Homo sapiens: one gene and its partners. The protein of the gene in region 4 purifies or fractionates together with the protein of the main gene of each other region. This does not show direct contact. Each region holds a gene or a part of one and is shown on either strand. Other genes may lie near its edges.

Region 1 (2,915 bases), on a different chromosome or scaffold from region 4:
TTATTTCCCTCCTCGTCTGAAATAGGGTCTCACTCTGTGGCACAGGATGGAAAGCAATGGTGCAGTCACAGCCCACTGCAGCCTCCCCCTCCTGGGCTCAAGCGATCCTCCCACTTGAGCCTCCCAAATAGCTGAGACTACAGGTGCGTGCCACCATGTCAGCTAATTTTTCTATAGAGAACGGGGTTTCGCTATGTTGCCCAGGCAGTCTTGAACTCCTGGGGTCCAGCGACCCCCCTGCCATGGCCTCCCAGAGTGCTGGGATTGCAGGCGTGAGCTTCTGTGCCTGGCCCCAGCAGCCTGATTGTGTCTGGAGGGTCCTGTTTGCCCTTTTCCAGGGAGTCGTGTGGGTGGTTTTCCATCCTGAAATCTGATGAGGAGGTTTTGGATGCAAGAGTTGCTGTTGCTGGGGTCACGGCAGTTGGTCGCGGATGGAGTGGGGAGGTTTTGGGTATAAGAGTTGCTGTTGCTGGGGTCACGGCAGTTGGTCATGGATGGGGCGGAGCAGCTCCGTGGCTTCCTGTCGTTCCCATCACTGAAGTGCTCCTTGTTGTCCTCACAGGCAGCAATTCCATTTCCGTGAGGGCGTTTCTAGATGAAGATGACATGAGCTTGGAAGAAATAAAAAATCGGCAAAATGCAGCTCGAAATAACAGCCCGCCCACAGTCGGTGCTTTTGGACATACGAGGTGCAGCGCCTTCCCCTTGGAGCAGGAGGCAGACCTCATAGAAGCCGCCGAGCCGGGAGGTCCACACAGCAGCAGAAATGGGCTCTGCCATCCTCTGAATCACAGCAGGACCCTGGCGGGCAAGAGACCAAAGGCCCCCCGTGGGGAGGAAGCCCATCTGCCACCTGTCTCGGATTTGACTGTTGAGTTTGATAAACTGAATTTGCAAAATATAGGACGTAGCGTTTCCAAGACACCAGATGAAAGTACAAAAACTAAAGATCAGATCCTGACTTCAAGAATCAATGCAGTAGAAAGAGACTTGTTAGAGCCTTCTCCCGCAGACCAACTCGGGAATGGCCACAGGAGGACAGAAAGTGAAATGTCAGCCAGGATCGCTAAAATGTCCTTGAGTCCCAGCAGCCCCAGGCACGAGGATCAGCTCGAGGTCACCAGGGAACCGGCCAGGCGGCTCTTCCTTTTTGGGTAGGAGTGTGTTGCCCTCTGCACTCACTTTCCTTCCCCACCTTCCCTCCCCCCTCCCCCTCCCCTCACCTCCCCCTCCCCTTCCCCTCCCACCCATCCACTCCCCTCATCTCCCCCTTCCCTCACCTCCCCCTCCCCCTTCCCTCACCTCCCCCTCCCCTTGCCTCCCCTCCCCCTCCTCTCACCTTCCCCTCCCCTCCCCCTCCCCTCCCACCCTCCCATTCCCCTCATCTCCCCCTCCCCTACCCCTCCCCTCATCTCCCCCTCACCTCCCCCTCCCCTATCCCCCCACCCCATCCCCTCGACTCTCCTCTCCTCTCCTTTCTTTCAGATGGAGTCTTGCTCTGTCGCCTAGGCTGGAGTGCAGTGGTGCGATCACAGCTCACTGTAACCTCCACCTCCCAGGTTCAACCAATTCTCCTGCCTCAGCCTCCTGAGTAGCTGGGATTACAGGCGCCTGCCACCACGTCTAGCTGATTTTTGTATTTTTAGTAGAGATGGGGTTTCGCCATATTGGCCAGGCTGGTGTCGAACTCCTGACCTCGTGATCCACCTGCCTCGGCCTCCCAAAGTGTTGGGATCACAGGCGTGAGCCACCGCACCCGGCCTCCACACAAGCTTTTGTGTGGACTTGCCGTGTGCGTTCAGTTCCTGTCTCTGAGTCCAGCTTCTAGATGCTCTTTCTGGGTCTTCCTCTGGTTGGACCGTGGGTGATCCTAGTGTTGGCTGTTATTTGCTAGGGATGTGCCTGCCAGTGGTGTGAATGATCTCTTCTAAATCCTTCTAGGAAGAAAAGCCATCTTGGGGTCAATCTCAATCTAACAGGGGATAAATGTCCCTAACCTTCTGGTACTGAGCACCCTCTGGGGGTGCAAGTATGCAAAACTGCATTTTAACAGCGGGTGGATCCTGCTACCATAGAGAATGCAGGCGTGCACCCAGAGGCGACTCCTCCCTGGCCCCTGCTCTTCTCATCACAGAACAGCGAGTCTGCATCCGCCTCCCTGGCCTTGGGAGATGCCTCCCTCTGCAGAGCTAATGCCCTGACATGCTGCTGCTGGTTCCCTGGTTCCATCTGCTCAGGCCAGATCGATCCTTGCACACTGTTGTTTTGTGTGCTGGGTTCTTGAGTTTAAAATGTAGTGATATTTGTCTGGGTGTGGTGGCTCACGCCTGTAATTCCAGCACTTTGGGAGGCCGAGGTGGGTGGATCACAAGGTCAGGAGTTCAAGACCAGCCTGACCAAGATGGTGAAATCCTATCTCTAATAAAAATACAAAAAATTAGCCGGGCGTGGTGGCAGGCACCTGTAGTCCCAGCTACTCGGGAGGCTGAGGCAGAGAATTGCTTGAACCCGGGAGGCGGAGCTTGCGATGAGCCGAGATCACGCCACTGCATTCCAGCCTGGGCGACAGAGCAAGACTCCGTCTCAAAATAAAAAAAAAAGTAGTGGTATTTTAGAAGTCTTTATGTTTTTACCAAAGATGTTTTTGCTTCTTTTATTGTGCTTTCTAGAGAGGAGCCATCAAAACTCGATCAGGATGTTTTGGCCGCTCTTGAATGTGCAGACGTCGACCCCCATCAGTTCCCGGCCGTGCACAGATGGAAGAGTGCTGTCCTGTGCTACTCACCCTCGGACAGACAGAGGTATGTGGGGCCCGGACAGCCTGTCACCCGCAGGGCAGCTTTTGGAAACTTCTGCAGGGTCCAGTTCCACTTCATGCGAACCTATCAGTGGCTTTTCCCAACGCTGGCAGGCCC
Region 2 (3,500 bases), on a different chromosome or scaffold from region 4:
AATAGGGATGTGGGAAAGGCAAGGAGAGGTTAGGGATTTTCTTCCCACTGGGAAGTTTACCTTAGACTCACTGTATTCTTTATATGTGGAAAGGAAGTAAGATATTTCATGAGTTGCACAAAATCAAGTCACTAGGATAAAACTTCTAATTTTATTCTTTACTGGGCTTTATATAATAAATATACATCCTCTCATGTTGAAGATTTATATACTGTTGGGAAAAATGTTTTAAGCTCATTGGAAGAGGGGAGACCATAACATTTCACTTTCTTAAACAGGTAGCAAATAATGAATATATATGAATACAATAAACGTATCTCAAAAAGAATGATACAACTTTTATTTTCCATGGATTTTACAGATACTTTTGCTACATAGTTTATGTATTTTTATGAGATTTTTTTCATTTGTATGAAGTTCATTCAGCCTTATACAATTTTAAGGTGATATGTTTGGTAGTGTATCTATAATCTTTAAAAAGTTTAGAGTTTTTGGAATGTACAGTATATGAGGTAAAATCAAGATTACATTAAAAATTGTTTTCTCCTCTGCACTAATTTTGCAGTGAGGCTCAAATGGCAAGTATACTATTAAATGACATTTACTATCAAAAATAGGAAGTTCATTTGAATTACTATGAAAAACATAAGCCACTGTAACTTGACACAGTGGCACATTTTACCATTTTAGACATTCAACTATATATAAATCTCTGGGCTATTACACTCAGACTCATTTGTACTGCCAAATGTGGCACTTTAAAGAAGTTTCTAGAAAACAATCGCAATCACTGTTGTTTCTGGGGAAGGTTATCACCCTATACATAAGAGATTAAATTTAAATAAAATGTAAACATACAGTATATTATAGTGACAGGTCATTCTTACCACTTAGAAAGGCCAAGTTTATCCATTTCTTTTTTGAACAAGGGTTAATGTTTTTCTACAGCACAGATCATTTGACATAAAACTGTTACAATACATGCCCATTCTATTATAAAAGAAATTCTTCAGAGATCTTCAAAGCACAAAAAATACGTTCTTTTTTCAAAGACTGACAGAAGTGCTTAATAATCACTAAAATGCCAACCTCAGCAACTAAAAATTAGTGATTCGCTATCCTAAAATTCAAATAATAAATTAAAAAAGCTAGTTACAGGTGTTTTACGGATAACAGATGTGCTAAAACAAGAATTGTAGATAGTTTCATTATAAACTGTATTATTACTTGCAGTCATCGACATCTAGGCAAGATGTACAATGTGATACTTGACAAAATTCAGTCTGATCATCCAATAACTCACAAATGCAAGCTCACAAAACATTAATGAATTATGCAATTGCAAAGTGCTCTAATGCAACATTAACCACATGCAATCAACAATTTGGAACAGTATCCAAACAGACATTATACGTTAAACGTTTAGTTTTCAAGAAAGAAAGCAGCTTGAAGTTTACTGGTGCAAATTAATTTTGTCTTCAGATTTGGTGCCCCAAACAAAAAGGTTAGGTTTGATTATGAATTCTGATGGTGGTGGCAGCAGTTATGGGAGAAGCAGCAGAAACTTATGGGAGTTCTTCAAAATTAGCCTATACCAGACAGAGTGAGTGTATGTATGTAATATATACTTCTACACTTGTTATGTGTATATGTGTACACTTGTTATATGCCATATATGTATGTGTATACCCTTATACACATACATATAGTTCAAAGGTTCACAAAACAGAAGCCAAATAGGTTTGAAATTCAATTTACTTTTATGATTACTTTCTAAAAAGTATTTAAAAGCACTCAATTCTTTTCCATGTTCTCAAGACCTGAAGAGGTACTTTTTGAGTAAACATCAAAATATTTTTAGGCCAAGTAAACTGTCTGTTCTTTAAGTACTTATCTGTGAATTCATGAATATATATTTATAATGAAGAACTCCACATTTATCAAAGAAGCTTTTCTTCATGCATACTCTTTCATCCAGTTTTTGTTTCTAAGCCCCTCCAGTTACTCATCATAATCCCACTTACCAAATAATTAAGACAAATGAGGAGGTAGAAATATAGCACTAGATTGCTTTCACAGCATCAGACTTTAACATTTTATATAGCATGTTAGTGTAAATTCTATTCATTCTGAATTTTTCACTTGGTAATAATCTTTAAAACAAACAGATCAGGTTATCACTGTTACACTCATGCCGATTCGTCAAAATATCCATTCTAAATTGTTGCCTCTTAGAAAGTTTTTCTATAAGAAGGCATTTGTTAAAAAAAGAGAGAGGGAAAGAAAAAAAGAAGACCCACCCTAACAAAAAAAACAAAATTGATATTTTTGTGGCTTGCATTCTAATAAAGTGCCAGCCTCTACCTAACAATATAAGCACTGAAAATGGCAAAAATGATGTGCTATAGTCTCAATGCCAGTGCTAAATGCCACTGTTTTTTATAAAAGCAATACAGAAATAATTTTAGTACATGACAAAATAAAATGTAATAGAGTTAAAAAATAAAGTTATATTTTCACTTGATTACAAAGTACTGAATGATAAAGGCAATCAAAATGGAAAAGAAAGCAAACAGCACAAGGATGACGGCAGCACACTGCTCGTCACTCAGTGCCCGTCGGGTCCTTGTGCTTTCCACAGTGTCTCTGTTGGTGCTGGCTGGTGGTTCAGTCCTCTGAGAGATGAAGAGCACTGTGGTGCTGTAGGGACCTACGAGGTCCTGGTGTCCCAGAGAGTCTTGGCACTGGCGAATGGCACATACACGGAAGCGATATTCACAGTTCAGCTGAAGGCTGGAATACCGGAAGGAAGAGTCGGGACCCTTGTAAATCTGTTAATAAAATATTAGAAGGAAGAATTACGTGTGAAGGCTGGACAGAAAATGTGTTAAAACTGGCTAGTGTTAGAATTGTTTTTCATGTGAAAGCCAGTGAATGCCATTGATTTTATCTTTTAAATGACATGTTAAAAATACCTGTCCATTAAAGTACTTATCTGTTTGTTGCATAGGGGCAAGAGAAATTTCAAAAGCGAGGATCTACCCTTATACGGTTCACAGATGAATTAAGGAGTGCAGATGTGCCCCAGGGCAGCTAGAGAACAAGCAAAATCGGTCCTCAAGCATTTTCTTGCTTTTCTCAAATGTAAGAAGTCATTTTTCAATGCAATCATTCCATCAAAGAAGGGATAGTGTCTACTTTTGCTTCCCCCATTATGTCTTTGTATAACTGATAAATTTCCATATAATTTCAAACATATCTGTACAATGAAATGGAAAATGAATAAGGGGAGCTTTCTATAGGTGCCTATGGCAAATCACTGTATAAACCAGAGAGGGGAGATCACTTAGAATCAGAAAATAGGACCTCCTCTGCCATGCCTCACAAGGGAAATAAAAAGAATGAAATTCCACGGATTTTCAGAGGAATGTGCTAGTAATTAACCCATTTATGCCAGAGGTTGCAAATTTTTTTTTTGTGAAAAATCAGACCTTGGCAAT
Region 3 (3,500 bases), on a different chromosome or scaffold from region 4:
TTCCTTACAACCTTGCATTTGGTAAAAAGACAACGTTAAAGGCAGTCACTCCTTTGATGTTTCTAAATATAGAAGTTCATATTGGTGTTCAGTATGCTACTAAATACATAATACCTACCATGTGAATAAAATACTATTATTAGTATTAAACGCCAGTGAACTGTGCACTACAAAATAGTTATGCTATATAAATTTTAACTCAATAAAAATACCAGTAATATGTATTTTTCTAACCTCTATGGAAAAACATGTTGAAGACAGGGCATATATTCTTTCTTCTCCCACAATTAGATGCATAAGGATACATCTTGGAAGGAAAGGGGAAGGATGTCAGGAAAAGCAGAAGGAAGGATTAGATTTCCTTGTTTCAGGACTACCTCTCTCCTCCCCTTCACATTCTAATATTTAGAACGCCTAATTTAAATCCTGCTGGCAATTTTGGTCCCATGAAATATCTGTAAAAAGGAACTAGTGAGGAAGAAAGTGAGAGACAATGCATCACACAGCTAATCTGTAGACTGGGCTCAAGTCCCAGCTCCATCGCTTCCGAGCTGGGTAACCTTGTGCTAGTAACCTCACTTCTCTGGGTCTTGGCTTCCTCATCTATAAAATCAAGACAATCCCTCAACAGTCAGCAGGTGGTCAGAAAAAAAACTACAAATAAAAAAAGTAAAATAAAATCAAGGCCGGGCACAGTGGCTCACGCCTGTAATCCCAGCACTTTGGGAGGCCAAGGTGGGTGAATCACAAGGTCAAGAGATAGAGACCATCCTGGCCAGCATGGTGAAACCCCATCTGTACTAAAAATACAAAAATTAGCTGGGCATGGTGGTGCGTGCCTTGTAGTCCCAGCTACTCGGGAGGCTGTGGCAGGAGAATCGCTTGAACCTGGGAGGCGGAGGTTGCAGTGAGCCGAGATCACGCCACTGCCCTTCAGGCCTGGTGCCAGAGCGAGACTCCGTCTCAAAAAAAATAAATAAATAATAAAATAAAATAAAGATAATCCCATCTCCATGTGGATCTGCTGCATAAATTAAATTGGTTAGGTTATGCAGAGTGATTATCATGGCTCCTAAAACATGGCCAGCATGCCATAGCAGGGTGTGGTCCATTTATTAACGAAGTCATCCAGAGGCATCGCAGGACAGTTCTCCAGGTGGCCTTGGACCTATGTAGTTCTCCCCCTCCTTTCTCGCTTGTAGTTCTCAAGAATAACTATGGAAATGTGCTGGAAATCCAACACCCTGAGATAAAAGGGGGCTGGCTGAAACAGCCTAATCCTCTCCCGAATAGGATGTCTTTCAAAGCTTTGCCCAGTGATTCATGTGATTCCTAGGTTTGTACCTGGCTGCCTCTTTGGGGTTCCTTATTTGCATGCAAGGAACACACACAGTGAAGACTCCAACAGCCCTAGGCAGCTTTTTGAGCCTTGAAGATGGGCTCACGATGAATCCTAGGCTCCTGTTTTCCCTTGCTGCCTAACTGTAAATACTAAATCTGCCTCATGTAACTTGTTGCAGATGAGTGTGCTCTGTCTCACCAGGTGCAGACAAGTTGGTAATCAGAGACAGCACACTGAGCCTACTTCACAAGCACAGTCATCTTTTTTGAGAACTCCCTATTACAAATACATCTGTGGGTCTTTCTGTGACCCTACCATAAGGAGCTGGTGCATATTTCCAATACTATGTCTTCTACAAAACCACCTTCCAGCAGGTCCTAGTGCAGACTAAGAGTGAATAATGCAGCATAATGTAGAATGGCAAAAACTAGTCCCTGCATGCTCCAGCCTCCTCTTCAAGACGCAAAGCCTCAGCAGCCCTTAACCACTCAGAATTTGATAGGGACCCACACTTCATAAAATGACAGCAGCCACACCTCCCTTGCTTCCTTTATGCATGCAACCTCAAAATTTTGTCTCCCTTACCTGAGAAACCTACAGCACAGCTCCTTTTGAAGTCAGGTTCATCCATAAATTCGGCAACAGCAAATTGCAAGAGCAGGTATACCACTCCAGTAAGTACAGAAAATGCGGTGATAACATAGGCAAACCATCTACTTCCCAGTCTTCTTTCTAGATTTATTCCTTTCCAGAGCATGGATGCCATATTGAAATACAAATGCCAATCATCAGCATGGTGAAGGGGAGAGAGCAGTAAACGCTGCCAGTCTTTTTGCTGGTAACACTTCTCCACACTAAGGCAGGAGCTATACAGTGGCTTCTGAGGGTTCAAGAAGAACCAGATGTTGAGGGCCAAAGTTGCTAGGGTGACAGGTGGAATATTGTTGATCCCAACATGGAAGATTTGAGAAAGGAGTAGAATAAGTCCAGTATTTATCCCTCTTGATCTCCGTTGCATGGCCAGATATCAGGGAAACAGCTCAGCAATGGGAAAACGTACTCAGGTGGTCAGTTTCAGGTATCTGGGGAGATATACAGACGGCTGAACCTAAAACACAAAATGCATGTGAAAAACCATCAATTAAGAATTAGTACATATATAAGACATACTCGCTTCAAGACAAACTCCCATGAGGCAAATGCTACTTCTCATTCTAACAGAAATATTTATGTTCGACATCTTCAAGAGTAATATCGAGGATGCTGACTGACACCCTTCCTTCATTTTACATTCTAGAATAGAAATGTTATCCCAAATCCCAATGAATCAGTTAATGGACAGGTATGTTTTTCTCTGACAAACACACCACGAAATTAACTTCACTTCCCAAACAAACATGTAACCTCATGAAAAACCTACAAAGATAGTGTGCAAGTATTAAATGATTTCTACTCAGAATCCTGGCCAGGATTCTTTATCCCCTCCATTTTTTTCAAAGAAATATTTGATTTTGATATGTTAGAATGAGTTTGCTCCAAAGTTTTTAAACATCAACAAGCAAGTTTTAAGACACGAGCATACATTATCTTTAATCCCAATTTCCACACTGCCAGATATCAGTGGTCTGAACTCTACTTTCATAACAACTTCAGCTTTTCGTTACCTACTCTACAAGCCAAATCCTGGGTTGAAACACAGTCCTTGTTTTTAAGAGGCTCACTTTCCACCAAGAAATAAACCAACAGTGGCCACATAATGTTCTAAATGCAGTGAGAGAGGGAACCCAGAGCACAGGCACACAACACAGCCTGAGGTGGTGATCTGACTATGGTCTTCAAGGGTGATTTGGGGTTGACAATGAGAAGTTCCATGGCTTACTAGCCCGCTTCTCCACCCCGCTGGACCTGGGCTGGCACTGTGACATGCTTTGGCTAACAGAATGTGGAGGAAGGGATACTACATAAGCTCCCAGCCTATACCTCAAGATGATTTATAGGCTTCTCTCTCTTGAAACCCTCTCAAACAACATGTGAAAACTTTAGGCCAGCCTGCTGGGTAATGAAAGAGAGGCACACACTCCAGTCACCCTGAAGGTCCTTGCCACTGGTCAGCTACTACTCCAGAGGTGAAGCTGTCTAGCTGACCACAGGTATACAA
Region 4 (2,666 bases):
TACAAAGTGAAGTCACACAGGCATGGAAATCCAAACATCGTATATTCTCACTCATATGTGCCAGCTAAGCTATGAAACACCAAGGCATAAAAATGATACACTGGACTTGGGGACTTGGAAGAAATGTTGGGGACTGGAGAGGGCTAAAAGACTACACATTAGGTACAGCGAACACTGCTTGGTTGATCGCTGCACTAAAATCTCAGAAATCACCATTAAAGAACTTATTAATGTAACCAAACACTATGTGTTTCCCAAAATGATAATGAAATTTAAAAATAAAAATGGAATGTCTTTATTGAAAATGCCTTATATTGTAGTCATAACTGAATTGAATATTAAAAAATCTAAAATAGTTTATCTGAAATAAATTATACTGGTACCCATCAATATGTTGAGCAATGCACACAATTAGTGATATTTTTAGGACTTAATAGAAAAAGAGAGACAATAAAAAGAAGACGTTAGCAGACAGCAAAACATGAAATTTATGAGGTAACTCAATCTCCAGACTTGCCCTTTCCTAAGATTTTCATTAATGCTCTGGTCACTTCCTTGTTGCGGAGGCTATAAATGAGAGGATTCAGCATGGGAGTGACGATGGTGTAGAATACAGACACCATCTTGTCCTGCATAGGAGAATGATGAGATGTGGGCTGAATGCACATGAACAAACCTGCTCCATAGTACATTCCCACCACCATGAGGTGAGAGGAACAAGTAGTAAAAGCTTTGCGACGTCCCTCTCCAGATCCCATGTGAATGACAGCCAGAATAACTCGAGCATAGGAAGTGATGATGATTGCAACAGGGAAAACAAGCATTACTATACAGCAGATGAAAATAACCTCTTCAAATATTGATGTGTCATTGCATGAGAGGATTAGTAGGGAAGGGAAGTCACAGCAGAAGTGGGCTATTTCCCGAGACCCACAGTAGGAGAAGGAAAATGTCGCTACAGCATCAATGATTCCATCTGTAGAGCCCAGGATCCAGGAGAAGGCAGTCATAAGTCCACAAATTTTGGGTCTCATGAGATTGGTGTATCTTAGAGGGTGGCAAATGGCAGTGTAGCGGTCATAAGACATAACAGCCAACAGAAAGCATTCGGAGCCAAGCAATGATATATAGAAGAAAATTTGTGTGGCACAGCCAGCCATAGAAATGGACTTGCTGCCAGACAAGTAGTTGAAGGCCATCTTGGGTACAGTGGTGCAGATGAGCATGAGGTCCATGAGGGACAGTTGGCTGAGGAGGAAGTACATGGGGGTGTGGAGCTGGGTATCCAGGTAGATGAGGAGAACCATGATGGAGTTTCCCATGAAGGCCACTGAAAAGATGGCCAGGACCAGAAAGAAGAGGAAGGTGTGGGTGGGGCTATGATTGAAGATTCCCAGGAGGAGGAAGTCAGAGTTGAAGGTCTGATTCTCCCATGCCATGATGAATATGCCTGTTACCTAGCACCGCAAAAACAGTTCATTAATTTGATAAACATTTACCCAGTGCCTTATAAAGCATGTGATTATGGTAAATTCTGTAGTTTGGTGATCAATACAGGATGGCCAGAATTATAAAACTCAAAGTTTAAGAATTATGGAATCATAAAGAAATATGTTCTCTCAGCAGTGTCTCACTTATAAAATTATGGAGCTTGTCCTAACTTTTCTTCTAAGCATTCTTTTTCTCCATTGAAAAATTACAATAACAATATCTACTACATGATCAATGGAGTTTTTCCAAAAAGAATATGTCTCCAAAGCAAACAGTTCCTAAAACATCAGAAGCCTGTTACAGGTAAATTGATAGAGAAATTCAGGTTCAGTCACCATGTGACCAACACAATACTAGAAATGGACAATAAATTTGTGCCTTTATTCACATGATAGTAGGCATTTTTCCTACCAGAGTTAAGAAAATGTGTATGTTTACCTATTACTTTACAGTTTAAAGTATTTTATCTATACTTTATAGTAAGTTTTCTATACAGTAAGTGGATTCACTGAAAAGATTTTCAATTATACAAATCTAAGACATATGCTCTTTTTTCTATAGCCCAGTGTGATGCATTGAATTATGTTTCTTCCCCAAAAGATAGCAAGTGAGCTTGTTTAGAAATACATAAAGGGTATAATTAGTTAAGGTGAGGTCAAGTTGGAGCAGAGTGGGTCTCTCTAATTCAATATGACTCATGTTCTGATAAGTGGGTGGCCATGTGAAGACTGAGACACTGAGGATACCATGTGATAGGGGAGGCAGGGATTGGAGTGGTGCATCTACAAATCAAGAAATGCCAAAAACTGTTAGTTATAACAGGAACCTGGGAGAGAGGAATGGGACAGATTCATCCTCTTAGAGCCCTCAGAAGTGTCCAACCCTGCTGACAACTTGATTTCAGATTTCTAGACTCCAAAACTATGAGAGAATAAATTTCTATTGTTTTAGGTAACCTGTTTGTGATTTCTCTGTACTGGCATTCGTAGGAAATTAATACATCCAATATATCCTATAGAAAATAAGTAGATATAAAAACAGAAATTAAGAAAAGCATGAGATTCATCCTTTCAACAACATTTATGAAGCCTGGCTATGTGTTGATCACTGGGGCTACCACAGTGACCAGAATAAAGAAAGCCCGTGTCCATACAGGTCATAGTGAGTGTGATCAG
Region 5 (3,500 bases), on a different chromosome or scaffold from region 4:
AACAATCTAGTTTGAGTTGATACCAACTTAACTTCAGTAGTACATAAAAACTTTCCTCCTATACAGCTCCATCCTCTCTGCTTTTATGTTGTAATGAACTATATCTTTACACATTGTATGTCTGATAACAAAGATATGTAATTAAATTATTTTTCATTCATTTATTTTTTAAGTCCTGCAGGAAATAAAAAGTGGACTTACAAACTAAAATTACAATAGCACTAGCTTTTATATTTGTCCAACTATTTACTAAAAATCTTTATTTCTTCATACAGCTTTGAGTTTCATTTTATTACATATTTACCTTAGCATTTTTTTGTAGGGCAGGTCTAGTGGTAATGAACTCCCTCAGCTTTTATCTGGGAATGTCTTAATTTCTCCCCCATTTTCGAATGACAGTTTTGCCAGATACAGAATTCTTGATTGACAAGTTTTTGCTTCTACCACTTTAAATATGTCATCTCATTGCCTTCTGGCCCCCATGGTTTCTATAAGATATCGGTTGTTAATCCTATGGATGATCCCCAGTGTATGTGATAAGTTGTTTCTCTCTGCTGATTTTAAGACTCTCTTTGGCTTTTGACAGTTTGTTGTGGTGTGGGTCTCTCTGAGATCATCCTACTTGGAGTTTGTTGAGCTTCTTGAATTTGTAGATTTATATCTTCCACCAAATTTGGGGATTGGGGGGTCTTCTTTCCTTAAATATTCTTCATTCATTTTTCTGTCTTCTCTTTGTGGAACTCCCATAATGCAATGATAACCCACTTGATGGTGTCCCATGGGTCCTTTAGGCTCTGTTCACCTCACTTCATTCATTTTTCTTTCTCCTCCTCAGACTGGATAATTTTTATGGTCTTATCTCTAAGTTTCCTGATCCTGTCTTATGCTTGCTTATATCTGCTTTTGAATACCTCTAGTGAATTTTCATTTTTGTTATACTTTTCAGCTCCAGAATTTGTTTGGCTCCCTTGAATAATTTGTCTTTATTGATTTTCTCAGAGATGAGTGCCTGTGTAAGTCCTTCAGGTAGTATTCTGACAGGTTAGGACAGACATACACAATTGTGTATGAGGTCCACTCTGCTCCTTCTGGAACTAGGGACTTACACTGGCAACGCAGGGGCTCTTCAAGACTGCTACTGCACTGGGATGGACCTGGGGCAAGGGCAGGTAAAATGCCACAAAGCTTTCCTCTCTTTGCACTTTCTTGACCAGTGTTCACTTGGTTGCTGAACACCTCTGACTGTTTTCCAGAGTTCTGGCAAATTGAGTTGACAGTTTTTGCTTGTTTTCTGATGTTTCTTTGGGGTAAGAAGAGTTCAGAGCTGCGTATTTTGCTCACCCAAAATTTTAAATTTTGAAACCAAATTTTAGTTGGTTGCTATAGATACTAAAGATTTAACAGATTTATATACCTAGTGTACCTAGTTTTTTATTACATACCATTGGAGTACGATGTTTCACTTTGGTCTGAATAACACCATCTTTTTCAAACTGTATCATATCATTAAGTGGGTCCCATGGTCGGGTACTACATAAATGAAAAAAAAAAAAACCATTTGCTCAATGACTAAACAAAGAACTTTAAAACTTTCTATTCTATGATCCAATTTTATTAATAATTATATACATAGTTCTAATAATGAGATTTCCCCATACCTAATCTTCAGATCCTCAACTTATTTTATAGGCTAACTTCTATCATAGAGTCAAGCTTATAATGAATGCAAAACCAAGTTTAAAAATCTCACACTAATATACATGGTTTAATTAAATAAAAACTACTCCAGCAACAAATATTCTAGAAATAAAGGCAACAAACCATGCTAATACATTGTTTGAAATAAACTATTTTAAGTTACTTACTCTGCAAACTTGTAATGCCATTCTCCTGTGAGTGGATCAAGTTCAAATAATTTGCAAGACCACTCTTCATTTTTTGTTTTCCGATCCCTGGCAGCTTGTCTTTGAGCTTCTTCCAAAACATACTTCTCTTGGGTAGCTTCAGTTTGGTCTTTGGCATTTATGGCTCGAGTTACCCGTTGCCAGAGTCTAATACATGTGCGAAAATATTAAAAGTATTAAAAATGTAACAGAAAATAAAATCTATATAGAATAGGCCTCAAATCCCTTGTAGAGAAAATAATGCTCACATGAATTTCTGGCTTTGACAACACTTATGCTCATAGGCTTAGAAATGAGTCAAGATATAAATCCAGTCCCTTGAGTAGAGAGAGACCTGTTCATAAGTGGAGACTAATTTTTTTTACTTGGCAAGAGAAACTTACTACATAGACTCTTAAACTCATGATAGTAAGTGTTGAAGTGTTGCTGGCTCAAGATGATAGGATGTAATGAAGGTAAAGCTCAGGAATCTACGCTTTTAGCAAGCTTCCTAGATGCGTCTTACACTGTTTAAGATTCACTGGCTTCATAAAGATCCATTAATGTAATGCAGTGCTTCTGAAGTTTGGATCCATGAATTATCAGAGAATTTTTATAATCAGAATCTCTGGGGTCAGGCGCAAGTATTGATATATTTTTTAAATGTTTCCCCAAAATATTTTAATGTATTGCTAGTGTTGAGAACCACTGGTTTAACAGAAAAGACTACTGAGGTAAAATGATTTCCCCTACTAGTTCTTTCTTCTGTTAAATAAAAGTATATCTATATCCTACCCATCTAGAAAGGCAGCATGTTAAAACCAGAAAAGGCTTTGGGATCAGATAGACATGAGTCAAGTCCTAGAGCTGCCACTTCTTAGCTGGTGCACTTAAAGTTATTTATCCTAAGTCTCATTTCCTCATCTTCAAATATGCTGAATTATATACTCTCACAAATTATCATATGTATGCCTTGGCAAAGCTTATCTCTGGAAAAAGAACATCAAATGGTTATGGCTGAGACAGAATTTTTAGAACTGGTACATATACATTCTTCCATCTTTGACAACCTCAAATTTGAGTGTAGAAGGGAAGGTACACAGACTTGAATTCCCATGACAGAGAATGATATGTATGTGCAAACATGTAGGGAGGACAAAGTTGCATAATAAGTACTAAGTGCCTAGCAAAATATCTCTTATACATAAGTCTCTTTCTCTTAACACAAAGATATAACAACAATAAAATAGGGAATGTGTATACAATATTTCTGATTCAAAAATATAAGCCATCTAGCAAGAAGTTCATGACTTAAGAACAGAAATGATAGCCTTAGTTATTACCCAACTAATAAATCCTATAGAAGCCAGTCCATCCAGTAACTTTACTTTTGTATCAGAGAATGGAACAGAAGTAGATTCTGCACCACTCCCTTTACCTAGAGTTCTAATGCTTAAATCAGGTTAGAAAACTGTTGCCAGGTAGAAACTAAGAGTCATTAATTAGTCCTGTAATCTTATTTAAACAAAAACGTTCTTTCTTTCTTTTTTTTTAAGGTGCTGGAACAATTGAGAAAGAAAAAAATGAGTAGTTTTGAGCTACAGAAAAGCAAGACGA
Region 6 (3,500 bases), on a different chromosome or scaffold from region 4:
AGTTTTGCCATAATGCTATAGAAACACTATGTATTCAAGTCTTCACCCAAAGAAGCTTCAAATACTTTAGAAATATTTTTTTCTACAACACCCAAAGGTGCCTTAGCTGGAAAGCATTCTCCTGCAAAAGAAGTCAGCTCCCACAGGGGTGAGCAATCATGATCAGCTCTCTTCACGCTTACACTTCTTAGGATGGGTAACTGAGGTTCTCTAGGGAGTTCTACCGGCTCACCCCTAGGCATTCAAGGGCACAAGAGCCAACACCTGGGGAGAGATAGTTACCTGAGCTCTGGATGCCAATTTGGCTGCTGTCTGAGCTGGATTAAAGACTCGGCGAGAAGACTGATCCTTGCAGAAATTAGTATGTCGCTCAGCTGCGCTTTCATTAAACCTTCTCATACAATATGGACGTTGAATATAATCTGAATGTAAAGATAACAACAAATGGCAATTAGCACTTCAAAAACAACTATAGAATACTATAGAATTATAGAATGAACTACATGAAGTGAAATAAGGATATGATGGCTCATGCCAGTAATCCCAGCACTCTGTGAGGCTGAGGTGAGTGGACTGCTTGAGTCCAGGAGTTTGAGACCAGCCTGGGCAACACGGCAAAACCCCGTCCCTACAAAAAATTAGCCAGGTGTGGTGGTGTGTGCCTGTGGTTCCAGCCACTTGAGAGGATAGCTTGAGCCCAGAAGGTCAAGGCTGCAGTCAGCTGTGATCATGCCACAGCACTCCAGCCTGGGCAACAGAACAAGACCCTATTTCAAATAAGTAAATAAATAAATATGTAAGTAATGATATGAACTCTGCTCCAACATGAAAGAACAAGGTCCCAAACTCTGGTTTGAGACTATTCCAAAGGGCAAGACATGCAGGGCTCAACTAAAGGACATGGCATGGAAAAATGTCACAACCTGTGCATTCATTTCAATTGTCTGTCCTTGAAATGTTTAAGTGATGTACTTTTCCAGAAAAACAAAGAAAATTAATCTTAAGAACTTCTCAATGAAATGAATTATTTAGTAAATCCTGTGTAAAGAAAGTAGTTCTAGAATCACAGAATGTTAGTATTGATGGCACAGTAGGGCACAGAATATTCAAAAGCATAGGTTGTAGTGCTGGGTGGGTCTTAGAGAAGTTACAGAGTTACAGAGGGAGATGGGATGTTTCAAAATGTGGGTTTGGGAGATATGAATGGAAGTCAATGGGACTGTGTCACTGGCAGAAAGACATACTGCTTTTGCAGTGGCTAGATTTTTTTTTTCACTTAACTACTAAGTGAGCAGGCAATATATTCAGGAAGGAGATAGTAATAGGATAAAAGGTGAGGACTCAAAAAACAGAAAAGGGAAAGAAGGAGGGATGATAGGAAAGTTCACCGAAAACAGCTTCAGCTTCCAGAGATGCAATGGCCCAGGCAGCTCCTGTCGGCCCCAGGTTCTCTGTGGTTCTGTATAATATCTTTTTTTTCTTCTTTCATTTGCAATTAACAGACATAATTGGTTACGGAGAGAAATGAGAAGTGGGAAACAGGCAAGATCTTCTTAGAATGTGGAGCTGCTCATAGCAAAACTAGGTTGGCAACTACCCCTCTAAATCAAGCAGGGATTGGTGTTTGCTTTGTTTTGTTTCAGGCACCTTAAAGGGATAGCACACTAGATATCAGCAACATAAAATAATCCCACCGCCCCGACCCCAGGAAGGGTGTGAAACTGCATCAACCTCAAACTCAGTGTAGAACTTGTGTTAGTGTATAGTCAAAATTCCTACATGCGTGGATGGGTATTTCATGTAGTGATGTTAAGAATTTTTTGTAAGCCACCTTTTTAAGCAGTTTGGGGAGTTTCCTATTTGAACAAATCATTTCCTAAAATGTATATTCATAAGATGTAACAATTGTTAAGCACTTAGGAATTATCTGGTAGCCTTATCCTTTATTTCTTACTCCATCCAGAAGGCAGTACCTCATCATTAATTTAACACTGACTGAGCATCTACTTGGTGCCAGGTGCTGTCTTACACCTGGGGATGCAATGTCTCTGAAATCAAGGAGTAAGCATTCTAGCACAGAAACAAATAAATAAAAATTTCACACGGAGATAAATGCCTTGAAAAAAAATAGAACAGGACAGCATTGGGAAATGATAAAAAGCCCAGTGCTGGAGCTTGCCTGACTGGTTTTGAGCCTGAGTTCTTTACTTGCTATGTGTGTGAACTCGGGCAAGTTACCCAACCTCCTTAAGCTTCCATTTTCCCAGCACCTACATATCACCTGTTTCATCGGGTTGTTGTGAAAGTTAACTATGAAAATCCACATAAGGGCCTGGCACAGTGGGCGGGGTGGAACATACTAAATGTTTTGTAAATGCTAGCTATTGCTATAAGGAAACAGGTTCAGCAAGGTTGTGTTTCCAACTACCAAATAGAAGTGAAACTGCCTAGGAAAAAAGTACAATAGAAAGTGCCATTATCATTCAGAATTCATTTACAATGGTTTAGAAGAACCATCTAGAACATGGCTTTTAGCTTGGTGGTTATTTCTTCAATTTTGCCAGCTGGAAAGTGAAGTCTTACATAAGAAATGCTGCAACCATAAACCCTACTCACATTAGGCAAAGACAATGATCATGGCAATACTGAGTTGCTTCCTTAATCCCACTTGCTCATTCACTCACTGCCACCCTTCTGTGTTTGGTACTACATATCACCATGGAGACAGCAAAGTTGAAGTCTATTTCCCTGCCAATGAAAATCTCAGAGATGATTAGGCAAACAGACAATTACTGCTTGGTGGGATAAACTGTAGAAGAAGAGGCACTAGGGCCTCTGGGACCCTACAGAAGGAACATAAGGCCCCACCAGAGGGGCAGAGAGCAGGCAGGAGAGAGTCCTGTGGCTGAGCATTCAAGGTTGCTGATTTCTATTTATGTTGAACTTCACATATTTTGAGAATTGTTGTATTTTCTGCAACAATAATCTGAACCCAGCATAACTGAGCTACATGTTCTACACTCAGCTCAATCGGAGTCACCTCTCTTCCTCTATCAATAATGTTTTCATAAAATCACCATGTCCTATTTATTTCAATAGGTAATGATTTTAAAAGTCAGAGTCCAAATGAATTCTTTCGAGGAATATGGTGGCCAGATCTCAGAGAAAAGTGGAAAACCAAGCATTATTTTAAAATGCCAATATTGTGCTGTGTATCCGTGTCTATGTAGCTATGCAAAATGGTAACTGAATGTCCCAGGCCTCATAGAAAAATAACAATTATAAATATTCTATATCACTGTCCCCATAAACTGTCACAGTATCCTAGAAATTTAAATCATTGACAGACTTAGCTAAGTCACTAAAAAGTAGAATATAGGCATGTCTCAAAAACTGAATCATGAAAATAGGGAATCATGCTGAGGAAAAAAGGGAAATTACTGGCACATTCATGCATGTTAGGCCATGTTATATATAACTCTAGTTATATGTATATAAAT
Region 7 (3,500 bases), on a different chromosome or scaffold from region 4:
GCTGCATAAGATCACACAGAAAGCAAACATTGGAGCTGGAATTTAAAACTAGGCAGTCTGACTCCCAAGCCCCCTCTTAAATCAAGCCTTCTAAAAAAAACTCCTACTCTGTTTCATTTACAAGACTGTTAATCTGTTATTGAGGATCAACTGAAACCATGTGTACAGAAGAGAAGATGTTGGGGCTTAACTGTATGAATACAGTCGAACCAGGAAAACATAGGCCTGTTTAAGAAAGTGAATTGAATAATCTGGTTAAATTAGTTGGTATGAGTAGAAGAAAGAAAGACTGGGCCAGAATGTGAAGGGCCTAACATAGCAAGCTCTGACTTCATCCAAGAGACAGAGCAGGTAGAAACAGGCAGGTAGAAATGTACATTTATGGGCCAGGTGCAGTGGCTCACGCCTGTAATCCCAGCACTATGGGAGGCCGAGGCGGGCGGATCACAAGGTCGGGAGATCAAGACCATCCTGGCTAACACGGTGAAACCCCATCTCTACTAAAAGTACAAAACAATTAGCCAGGCTTGGTGGCGGGTGCCTGTAGTCCCAGCTACTCGGGAGGCTGAGGCAGGAGAATGGCGTGAACCTGGGAAGCAGAGCTTGCAGTGAGCCGAGCTCATGCCACTGCACTCCAGCCTGGGCGAGAGAGCAAGACTCCATCACCAAAAAAAAAAAAAAAAAAAAGAAATGCACATTTATGGAGAACCCACTATGAGTCCAGGGCTGTGCTGGGTGTTCTAATATAAGATATATGAAAACATTTTGAAACTGCAAAGCTCCTTGCAAATATAAGGTATGATGAGTTCCAGAGAACTTTAGGGAATCTCTCCTGGCTCTTCCTTTTACTCCCACCCCTCTTCCAATCTGTAACTAGATAGAGGGGGCAGAAATAGAAGAAAAGGGACTAGCAATCTATCTCCTCCCCATCTGTCACCTAAACACCAATAAATCAACAAAAGTACAGAAAGCCTACTAATATGCAAAACACTAAGCACTAAGCTATAGATCAAGTCCTAAGAGCAATATTTCTTTATATCAGAGGCAGTCCCTGTCCTTAAGAAACAGAAAATTAAATAAAGGCACAAATATTTAAAACAAAGAAACTTCACAATACAATAAAAAGCCACCAAAGATTTCAAACAAGTGCTAGAGAAGAGCTGTATCACTTTTAGGTATAGTTCAGAGACTTTCCTGAGGATAAGGAATACGTGAGGTAAGCAGGCTTTTAAACTAGGCTGGGCTCAGTGGCTCACGCCTGTAATCCTAACACTTTGGGAGGCTGAGGCAGGTGGATCACCTGAGGTCAGGAGTTTGAAACCAGCCTGGCCAACATGATGAAACCCTGTCTCTACTAAAAATAGAAAAATTAGTTGGGCATGGTGGCACGTGCCTGTAGTCCCAGCTCTCAGGAGGATGAGGCAGGAGAATTGCTTGAACACAGGAGGCAGAGACTGCAGTGAGCCGAGATCACACCACTGCACTACAGCTGGGGCAACAGAGCAAGACTCCATCTCAAAAACAAAAACATAAATAAAATATTAGACTAGACAGACAACAAATCACCTTTTTAATAAACTGAAACTTACTTTAAATGAGCTCATTATATAAAGAAAATTTGTCTTGAATTCTTATAGAAGAAAGGGGATTCATAATCTTACCCATTTTGTATGTTTTACTTGTTTAATTTTTATCTTTGTTAAGGCAAAGCATACCAACACTACAATAATTATACAAAGTTAAATAACCTAGTGTAATATATTCTTTATCCATACCTGAAACTAGGCAAAGGCAGCCAACCTGGTAAGAGCCAGGCTGCATGGCTGAAACCTCCATCCAAATCTGCATACAGCTGTGCTACCTTTTCATTGAGTTGACTTCTGATTTCCTTTCCATGCAAACAATGGCTAGCTGTTAAAATTATGAGCTCAGAAAGAGCTTCAAACACATCTAGGGAGAAAAAAAAGATTATTCTCATTACTATTTCCAAAAAGTGAAAGAAAATTGAGAATTAAAAACAGAACTCAAGAAGAAACAAGATCCTATTCATATCATCAAAAAAAGTCTGTAGACAGACATGTGACTATGTACAACAACAAAGAGGGGCAATAAACCAAACAATGTGAAGCACCCTGTCCCTCTAAACAGCCAAAACAGATCCCAGAAACACATCTCAAAACCCCACTCATGAGCACTTCATCATGAAAAGAATAAATGTGGTTATTTGATTTCCAGGTCACAATAACAAAAGCAGAAAAAAGGTTATTTATAGTGCATATGACAATAATAAGGTACTTCCCAAGGAATAGTAGCCAAAGATCAGATTATTTCCCAGGTTAAAAGTAGGAAGATCAGGGCCAAAATGGAATTACTGGCGATATGTAAAAGAAAACTATAATCACCAATTAGTATATCCCAACACTGGAGACAAATGCACCAGGCAAGCATAATTTGATGACAACTAATAAAAATTATCCAATTAATTTCCTGTTAATTCCACATTCACTAAATGAACTTCCAATGATCATCTGGCTTTCCAATTATATTTGTCAATAAAAAGAATATCAGTAAATATTCTGGATTTCTTGGTGCTGTAATTATATGTCTCACATGCATTATTACATTGGCATTCTAATTTATACATCAGTTTCTTGTATGGTTAGAAAATATATCAATATCAACTTAAGTATACCAAAAACAAAGATTCTGGAACTCTTACAGAGGCCAAAGGCCAGACCCAGAATATAGTGACCTGCTGCCCTGGGTCCTGCTGCCCTGTGGGCAGATGTTGCTTCCTACTATGGGCACAGCAATTGCTTCTGAAGGCAATACTTAACTTGCAGCCCAGTATAAAAACTGGATTCTCAGTTACAACTTCATGGTAATCATTACATAACCCTCCCATAAATCTAAGGTAGTTTTACATACACTGTAATTTGTTTTTTATATACTACACACATATATACTCTACTTTTCTATTCACAGAGAAGTAGAAATGTTAGGACAAACATAAAACATTTTGCTTACTTTTTTCTCCACTTTCTCCCCAACTCTCAAAGTATTCCTTTGTTTCTTTTTCAATTATAGAAACATGCTGTTTAAAGTGGGCTATGTTAAGGCCACTTTTTAACATTTTCTTCTGCTCCAAGAAAACCTTCAAAAAAATTCAAAACGGGGATACGGCATTAAAACACATTTTTGTTTTATCATAAAATCCATTTAGGTTATTATAATTATGTAACACTAACACAAGTAATGGTTTTAACCCTTTGGGCATTTACATTTTAAGAGTCTAAATGAATAGATCTATCTGACTCTAAATGAATAGAGTCTAAATGAATATATATATCTGAACAGAGGGATTTTCCAGGGCCCTGTTTTTTGGCCTTAAGGAGAGGCATTCATTCCCTCATTCCCCATCACTAGAAACAAGATTTAATGTTAACTCTTAACTGCTATACTAGGGTACTGGCTAATGTGTGTTACATTCACAGCCAGAG

What was found.
Region 1: the proteins of OR2M7 (region 4) and ANKLE2 purify together in Homo sapiens (affinity purification with mass spectrometry; one large-scale study listed by BioGRID and IntAct). This does not show direct contact.
Region 2: the proteins of OR2M7 (region 4) and FNDC3A purify together in Homo sapiens (affinity purification with mass spectrometry; one large-scale study listed by BioGRID and IntAct). This does not show direct contact.
Region 3: the proteins of OR2M7 (region 4) and RHBDD1 purify together in Homo sapiens (affinity purification with mass spectrometry; one large-scale study listed by BioGRID and IntAct). This does not show direct contact.
Region 5: the proteins of OR2M7 (region 4) and OSBPL8 purify together in Homo sapiens (affinity purification with mass spectrometry; one large-scale study listed by BioGRID and IntAct). This does not show direct contact.
Region 6: the proteins of OR2M7 (region 4) and ZC2HC1B purify together in Homo sapiens (affinity purification with mass spectrometry; one large-scale study listed by BioGRID and IntAct). This does not show direct contact.
Region 7: the proteins of OR2M7 (region 4) and CYP51A1 purify together in Homo sapiens (affinity purification with mass spectrometry; one large-scale study listed by BioGRID and IntAct). This does not show direct contact.

What each region holds. Positions count from the first base shown.
Region 1 is NC_000012.12:132,727,918-132,730,832, reverse strand, and holds part of ANKLE2 (ankyrin repeat and LEM domain-containing protein 2), read left to right. Parts: intron 1-562; coding exon 563-1,154; intron 1,155-2,669; coding exon 2,670-2,801; intron 2,802-2,915. UniProt on the Homo sapiens protein: Involved in mitotic nuclear envelope reassembly by promoting dephosphorylation of BAF/BANF1 during mitotic exit.
Region 2 is NC_000013.11:49,206,412-49,209,911, reverse strand, and holds the end of FNDC3A (fibronectin type-III domain-containing protein 3A), read right to left. Parts: intron 2,832-3,500; coding exon 2,517-2,831; 3' UTR 133-2,516; downstream 1-132. UniProt on the Homo sapiens protein: Mediates spermatid-Sertoli adhesion during spermatogenesis.
Region 3 is NC_000002.12:226,863,554-226,867,053, reverse strand, and holds part of RHBDD1 (rhomboid-related protein 4), read right to left. Parts: intron 2,451-3,500; 5' UTR 2,361-2,450; coding exon 1,928-2,360; intron 1-1,927. UniProt on the Homo sapiens protein: Intramembrane-cleaving serine protease that cleaves single transmembrane or multi-pass membrane proteins in the hydrophobic plane of the membrane, luminal loops and juxtamembrane regions.
Region 4 is NC_000001.11:248,323,130-248,325,795, forward strand, and holds OR2M7 (olfactory receptor 2M7), read right to left. Parts: upstream 1,440-2,666; coding exon 501-1,439; downstream 1-500. UniProt on the Homo sapiens protein: Odorant receptor.
Region 5 is NC_000012.12:76,367,772-76,371,271, forward strand, and holds part of OSBPL8 (oxysterol-binding protein-related protein 8), read right to left. Parts: intron 2,052-3,500; coding exon 1,866-2,051; intron 1,531-1,865; coding exon 1,443-1,530; intron 1-1,442. UniProt on the Homo sapiens protein: Lipid transporter involved in lipid countertransport between the endoplasmic reticulum and the plasma membrane: specifically exchanges phosphatidylserine with phosphatidylinositol 4-phosphate (PI4P), delivering phosphatidylserine to the plasma membrane in exchange for PI4P, which is degraded by the SAC1/SACM1L phosphatase in the endoplasmic reticulum.
Region 6 is NC_000006.12:143,895,474-143,898,973, reverse strand, and holds part of ZC2HC1B (zinc finger C2HC domain-containing protein 1B), read right to left. Parts: intron 423-3,500; coding exon 283-422; intron 1-282.
Region 7 is NC_000007.14:92,124,478-92,127,977, forward strand, and holds part of CYP51A1 (lanosterol 14-alpha demethylase), read right to left. Parts: intron 3,155-3,500; coding exon 3,028-3,154; intron 1,951-3,027; coding exon 1,776-1,950; intron 1-1,775. UniProt on the Homo sapiens protein: Sterol 14alpha-demethylase that plays a critical role in the cholesterol biosynthesis pathway, being cholesterol the major sterol component in mammalian membranes as well as a precursor for bile acid and steroid hormone synthesis.